Homo sapiens: one gene and its partner. The protein of the gene in region 1 interacts with the protein of each later gene in a biochemical or structural test. Each region holds a gene or a part of one and is shown on either strand. Other genes may lie near its edges.

Region 1 (3,600 bases):
GAACTGCTTCGCTTTTACAGATGAGGAAGCCGTGGTCTCCACCATAGCCACAGTTAACCAGCAGTGGGGTCATTCCACTTCCCAGCTCCCTCAGCCCCGTGCAGCCCCCACCGGCCTTTCCCGCCATACCTCCTCCTACTCCCCAGGCATGCTAAGTGCTCCCATCAGACCTAACTGCCCAAGTGCCTCGGTCTATTCTCTCCTCTCTGCCCACAATGCCCAGCTTAGCTGTGCCCATGTCCTTCAAGCTCCAGTTCAAATGTCATGTTGCCCACGAGCTCACCTGACCCCCCAGCCCAGGACACCACTCTGAGGTCCCTCCCGAGGCCCCTGCACCTGCACTCAAGCGGGGTTGGTCGAGTAGAGACGTTTTCCCCTATGCGGTGGTCAATCAGTCCTGGGAGGGCAGGCCCAGTCCACTCCCACCCGGTGCACCCCAGCGTCAAGCTCTGGGGGAGTGACCACTCAATAAATATTTGCTTAATTGAATTTGGCCAAGGAGCCTTCTCCAGAGAGCTCAATCCCCAGGGCAGGGAAATCACTTGGGCAGAAAGGAGCCGGTCAGGGGCTCAGCTGTCTCCCCAAGCAAGACAGACCTCTCTACCAGGCGGGTCCCTCCACCCCAACACGGACTACGCGGAACGCTGGTCTCGCTTGGCATCATCCTCTTGTCTCAGTTAACAGGAGCCCCCATTCTCGGCCTAGGCCGAATCCTGCCATCATCACCCAGGAAGGCTCAGCACCGCCCTAAAGGCAGAGCCCCCTCGGATCGCCCGCAGGATACGGAGCGCCAGCCCTGAGGCCCTCACTCCCCTCCCCCAAACACCCCCACCGCCTTTTAAGGGAAAAAATATTGAGCCGGGAACGTATTACAATCGCAGCAGGTCGATACTCATCTCTTCCTCTAAATGCCTGTGAGGAACCTGCTCGCTGCAAGAGCAGTGACCGAGAACTGCTAGCTGTCCGTCTGCGGGCCCAGGTCCTCGGGCCCAGGCCTCTGGGGCCCTCTCCTCGGTTTCAGGCAAGGCCCTGCATCGGCTCCGGCCGCCCCTCCCTGATCCTCCCCCTAGGGAGACCCGCCTCAGCGCCGCTCCCGCAGCTCGCCTGGCCCGCCCGGGCTCCGCATCAGCCGCTGCTTGGGGGCGCCCGGCGGCCCCGCGCGGCATCCCCGGCGCCCTCTGTCCACCCTCCCGGGTCCTCAACCGCCCCCTCCCGCGGGGTCATCGGCTTGGCGGCGCATCCCTCCCCCAGCACCTGCCCGACCAGAGGCCGCCCCCTGCCCACCTCGCAGGCGTCCCCGCCCTTGGTGTCCCCCACCCCTGAGGGGCATCCCTGACGCTGCGTCCTGGCGGATCCGGGGCACAAAGGCCTGGGAAGAGTCCCAAGTGGGGGCAAGGTGGATGCCCCGGCCGTGCCCCCGACCCCTGAGGCTCAGCGGCGCGCGGCCGGCCGCGGGTCGGCTCACTCACCTCCGGGCCGCAGCACAGAGCATCTGCCGAGCTGCTCCGGGCAGGGCGGGGCGGGGCGGGGCGGCGAGCACGGGGCCGCGGCGCCCTCGTTCCGTACGACGCGGGCAGCGGCGCCCACGCGGGGACGTGACCGGACCGCGGGCGGCGCACACGCTCCGGCCGGCCTGGTTCCCTCCGCCCGCCCTCCCGCGCCGCCCGCCGCCCGCCGCCCGCCGCCAGTCCGCGGGTCCGCCCGCCCCGCGCCGCGCCGCCGCCGGCAGGGGGCGGAGCCGCGAGCGCAGCCCGTTGCCAGGCCAACCGCGGGCGGGGGGGTGCCGCGCGCCCGCCGGGCACCACGCGCCGGGCACCTCCGCCCCGCCACGAGCGCCGGCCCTCTGTCCATTGGGCACAGGCAGCTGACGGACGGGCCAGTAGCCCAATGGGGACGGACAGGGGCGGGGTCGCAGCTCCGCGCGCGCCGCAGTCCCGCAAGAGCTCCCCGCGCCGGCGTTCCACCGACTCCGCTGCGCTGAGGCCTGGTAGCCGAGCCCCAGGGGCCACCTCTGGCAGCCCGGGAAACCAAGCCTGAGCCCAGCCATGGTCCTGGCCCTCTTTACTGCAGCCAGTCCCGGCTCGCCTTCTCTCCACTCGGGTTCAAACCCAGTTCGGCCTCTTGTGAGCTCTACGTCCTTGGGCAACCGACTGACCTCTCTCAGCCTTTCTGTTTGCAAAGTGGGGCTAGTGGCACCTGCTTTCCTGGATTGTCTCACCAATCCTTCAGAACGTGTGAAAGGCCTATGCAAACCCTAACGATTTACACCGGTGAGGTTTGTGCAGCGATGGGAGGGAGCATTAGTCATCTCTGCCGCCGCCCCCCGCCGCCACCGCCCAGTGTCTAGGGGCTCTTTGGCGTCCCTGGCAATCCTGGCACACGGAAGGGTGGCCTTGGGAGGGAAGGAAGGGAGAAGGACCGAGGAGCTGGCCCCCAGCCCAGACAAGCGTGAGAGAGCCAGTTCAGTTAAGGCCACTGATTGGCGCTTTTGGGAAGCTGGTGGAAAGCATCAGACCCTCAGCAAAACGCAGCTGAACCCAGGCTGCAAAATTCTGTTTTCAATTTCAAAGCCTATCTGTGGACCTCAGGGCCAGGAGTCCCTCAGTTCCATGCTTAAAAGACTCTCAAGCCAGAGGGCCAAGACATGAATGCTCCTGTCTCTCTTCTCCATCTTTGTAAATCTGAAGCTTTGTGTATCCTAGAGCATCCCTGACAAAGTGCAAATGCCTTCCCAGCTAACGCGTTCCTTATCACCTCACACCTTTGTAAGGTGTGGATCATGCCATTCTTTGAGCAGCAGCCCTGGACCTGACCATGGCAGAGGTCCATGGAGCGGTCTCTCCATCATAGCTCTGTGGTGGAGGGGCAGGGGCATGTGCCTGGCTTTGCCAGCTGGACACTGTGGCATCTCAGCATCATCCCATAACCTCCCTAGGAATGTTTCCTCTTCTGTGAGATGGAGACCATTGCGTTACGTACCTGCAGGGTCATGGGCCACCTGTGAGGGTGCTGCCTCAACTGTCAGGAACAGGACGTATATTTGTTATGGGCATCATGGAGGCGAACTTAGTGCTCACTGGAGGTGTCCAGTGAGGACCAAGGGAATTCAGCCAATGGCTGAGGGGCTAGCTACCCTTTGTGCTTGCCTTCCACACCACCAGGCTGTGTCAGGCTGGACCTCTTGCCAGGAGGACCACACAGAGACCGGCAGCTGTGCTACCTGGCTGAGCCTCTGTTTCCTCTTCTGTCAAAAGGGAATGTAACAGACTGTGGTCAGAGGGTGGCTCTGAGGGTTAATGTTTATAGGAAATGCATATTAGCATGTCTTGGGATAGCCAGAGGCTGTTTCCACTGCAGAGTCTGGGGGTCAGAGTTGAATTGTTTGCAGAGGTAAGCCCACATGCAACAGTGAGATGGCCCTTTCCAGTGGTCCAGAGCAGAGGCTAGCCTGCGGAGGGGTCCACTGGGGCTGGCTGACACCTCCCTGACTTGACCTCAAAGTAAGAGAGGGACATCTCACCTGGCATCAAACCAATATTGTATTCATGCAGCAGTCACTTACAGATAGCCTCCTCCACCAGGGTATAGTTGTAGGCACAG
Region 2 (3,815 bases), on another chromosome or scaffold:
TGAGACGGAGTCTTGCTCTGTCGCCCAGGCCGGAGGGCAGTGGCGCGAGCTTTTGCCAAGTTACGAGACGGACAGGAATCGAGGAGATTCCCCTGTAGCGCTCTCCACCTTCCGGACAGAAATCCTGTAGACCACGTTCACTTCTCCACTCCGTGCATCGCCCGTGGCCCGTGGGCAGCAGCTGCTCCCCTGGGATCCCCCTCGCCTGTCCGCGAGCTCTCGCACGGCCGCGTCCCTGCTGCTGGGGTCGCTCGCTGGCCCTGGCTGCTCGCCAGGATTTTCCTTTGATGCTGTCAAGTCCGGGAAGCTCACGATGCACCTCAGTGCCCGCGCGCCGCCTCTCCCAAAGCCCCTTCCCCACTCACTCCCCCACAAGCGTGGAGGGAGATGGGGTAGGTCGCGGCGCCTATAGACCCCCTCCCGGCGCCCACTCTCTCTCTTCCACTTCTCTAGCAGCGGTAGGGCCGCAGCGCACGCAAACCTTTCCCCAAAACGCCCACCCCACTCTCAGCTAGCCGCTTCTCTCAGGGCTCCTCCGCCCGAGCTGGGTGTGGGGATCGCCGCGCACACAGAGACGGGAAAGCCACCCCGGTCCCGGAGCGCCGCTTCCCTAGAGGCCCCTGGCCCGTCCGCTCCCCCAGCGCTGGAGGACAGCCGCGCACACAGACCCTCCCCTCCAACGCCCACCGCGGTCCCCAGCTGCAGCCTGCACCTCCACTTCCCGCCCCCAGTCTCCCGCCCTCCGCCCCCTGCTTTCCAGTCTCCGCAGTCCGGGCGCCCAGACTTGTTTCGACTTCCCAGGGCAGCTCCGAGGGTGCGGAAGATCAAGTGCCCGGGTTTGTTCCAGGAAAATCCCGGCGGCGCCTGCACGTTAACTGCCCTGGCGCAGGCGAAGGGTGGAGGGCACTTCTCTGTTCATTCGGTTTTCAAGAGCGTGAACAGAGGCTCCGAGTGAACGCCCATACCTAGTCGGTCTTCTAGGGTCCACGCGTGGGGCGTCCACTTCCTCACCCTGCCCCTCGGTGCCCCTGCCCTGGTTGCACTTCTCCTAAAAGGAGGCGCTACGATTCCAGGAGGCTCTGTCTCCTTACCCTTCCCAGCGGCGCTCAAACCACCAGCCCCGGGCGCCCAACCCCTTCCTTGTCCTCTCCCTATCCCGTGAGAAAGCCGACGCTTCCACCCGCCTGGTCTTTCCGAAATACGCTTCGGGTGGTCAATGCGATTTCTAGGGTCTAAAGACTAGACTCCCGCGTTCCCCACCAAGACACCGACGCGAAGCCGCAGAGGTGGAATCGCGGACGCCCTGGCAGGCCCGGGACATATTGATCCTGGTGGCGCGATGCCCCTCTTCGCACGCGGACGCACTCGCAGCCCCACTCCCCCAAACTCGCACTGCGGGAAGGAACCCCCGACTCGCACCGGCTCCCGCCCCGCAGCAACGGCGACACCCTGAGGTCCGGACGAGCGGCGCGCCCCTCCCAGCCTCGGCCACTTTCCAGCACGAAGCCTCAGGGCGAGCCCGAGACGAAGAAAGAGAGTTCGAGGAACTGGGATACTCACGAGCCCACCGTCCACCCTGCCGGCCGGGGAGGAAGCCCCGGCCGGCTCGCCTCCGTCCGCCGTGCGCATGCGTCCCGCGGGTGCCTTCTCAATATTGCAGCGCGGAGGGCTGCCCTCTCTACGTCGGCGATTGCTCACCGCGCCTTTCGCCTTTCTCCGGCTCTCGGTCTTTGCTCTAGCCCTCTTCTCCCGGCCTCTTCCTCCCCTTGCTCTGCCTCCTCCCCGCCCCCTCACTCCTTTTACCCGGCCGGGCAATCCCACGTCTCGCCTCCCTCCAGCGGCGGCGCACTCCACCGCCGCGGGTGCTAGGGGTACCCCCGAGGCCCCACGCGGGGCGCGACCTCCACCCCGGCCGCAGCCCCACTGCTCCAGCCCCGCATTAGCAAGTCCCAAGAGTGTGGATGCGAAGCCAGGCGCGCGTAGAGGGCGTCCGCGAAGCCCTCTGTGTCATCGCCTCCCCTCGGCGCGCGGGGCCGAGCGAGACTAGAGTGTGCTGGACTGCGTGCTCGGACCTCGTGAATGAAGGGAGCGGGAGGAAGGAGCGGGGGTGGGCGGCAGGCATGGAGGGGGCGCTTGGTCCCCAGAGCTTCGCGTCTGTGGACTGCGCGTCTCTGGAGGGCAGCCCCCTACCTTCTCCCCGGCCCGGGGCGCCTCTCTGAGCTCTGTCCCCGCCCCACCCCGGCGCAGCCTAGGCCTCCGGTCTTCCCGCCCTGGAAAGCGGCCCTCGCCCCCTCCCAGCTAGCCAGAGCGCGGAGGCCCCACCCAGCAACCGAGCGGGGGATAAGGGGGGGAACTAACCCCTGACTCCAGATCCCGCTGAGACCCTCGGCAGTCGCCCTCCGCGTCCCCTTCTCCAGGGACTCCGGAGTCCGGGGAAAGGAGTAGACCAGGGGGCAGCGGGAGGGGGAACCCAGCCGCCCAGCTCTCCGGACTCGCAGCACCGCGTGTCCCCGTAGCCCGCAGCGTCCCTTCGGGAGTGGGACCCGGTGGGGCCGCGGGGTTAGTTCCCTGGAGCCCGGAGGGCTAAGCTGAAGCTGGAAACTGACCTGACACAAAAATAACATCACGTCATTTCCTCCCTTGCCTGCCGAGAGGGCAGGGGAGTGGGAGAGCGAGCGCTGGGAGCAGGCGGAGGCGCGTTTGGGGGAGGCTCGGAGTAGGCGGAGGAGAGCGACACGCTGAGAGTTTGAAAGGCAGCCTCGGGGAAGAGCGAGGGCTCCCTCCCGTTTTCTTGGACCATGGAAAGGAAATGGCCCAGGAAAAAGTAGCTTGGAGTGTCTTCCCGCGGGGAGGGGCGGTGTCCCGGGAGCCGCCAATGTCCCGTCCTAGGACTTGCCCAGCCACGTCCCGGCCTTCCCGACCTTGCCACCCTCCCTACTGCTAGCCCCAGCGGAGCGGGTCAGTTGGGGTTAGGAAGAATCGGGAGAGGCTGGTGTCCTGGGGAGGCTGGGTGTGGGGCGTAGTGGAGACCACGGTACTCACCGGCATAGGCGAGCTCTGCCCAGCGGTGGCGTCTTCTTCCCTGGGCTTGGCTACCGGATGGGGGGGCCTCAGCGGACGACCCCCCGAGGGTCGGCCGGGCAGTGCCAGCGCCGCCCCGAGCAGGAGCGAGAGGCGGCCCGGCAGCTCCTCGTGCCCCCTCGAGAGCCGGGCGGCCGGCAGGGCGGGAAGCAGGGGGGAGAAGTCCAGGCGCCTCCGGGGAGCCTCGGGAGGGGGTCGCCGGAGAAGGTGAGAGAAGAACCTTGCGAGGCTGGAAAGCGGGCTAGAAAGGAGGCCGAACAGCTTCGGGGCGGCGGGCGAGTCTGGGAGCTGTGCAGGCGGGAAGGACTGGGGTGGGGAGAGAGAAACAAAACCAGCATACGGTTACTGTGGTGTCCGGCCGCTTAGATGGGGCTCTTTACTACAGAATTTTGAAGCGTTACTTTGGGGGTGCAAGAGAAGGTCGGTGAAAGCAGAAGGAAAGGCCTATAGTTAGATTCTTTCCCCTCCCACTCCTGTATTTCCTAACTCCGTGCTACTTGAAGTGTGGTCCGTAGGCCAGCAGCTTCGCCAACACCTAGGAGCTTGTTAGAAATAAAGACTCTTGAGCCCCACCCAGCCAATGCATCGGAATCTGCATGGTAACATTCCCAGGGGACTACCATGCGCGCTGAATGTGACATGCGGTATGCAGAAGGGTCTGTGTTCACATCGCCTGGTTCTTCAGAATTTGGATGAAAATCTTAGTTCACTTTTGTAACTGTTGCTCTTCCCCT

Evidence for each region. The genes of interacting proteins can lie anywhere in the genome.
Region 2: the proteins of GNAZ (region 1) and RGS20 form a complex in vitro, tested with the Homo sapiens proteins (2 studies listed by BioGRID, with this or other methods).

Annotation. Positions count from the first base shown.
Region 1 is NC_000022.11:23,068,440-23,072,039, reverse strand, and holds the start of GNAZ (guanine nucleotide-binding protein G(z) subunit alpha), read right to left. Parts: upstream 1,522-3,600; 5' UTR 1,470-1,521; intron 1-1,469. UniProt on the Homo sapiens protein: Guanine nucleotide-binding proteins (G proteins) are involved as modulators or transducers in various transmembrane signaling systems.
Region 2 is NC_000008.11:53,878,830-53,882,644, reverse strand, and holds the start of RGS20 (regulator of G-protein signaling 20), read right to left. Parts: upstream 1,774-3,815; 5' UTR 1,630-1,773; coding exon 1,561-1,629; intron 1-1,560. UniProt on the Homo sapiens protein: Inhibits signal transduction by increasing the GTPase activity of G protein alpha subunits thereby driving them into their inactive GDP-bound form.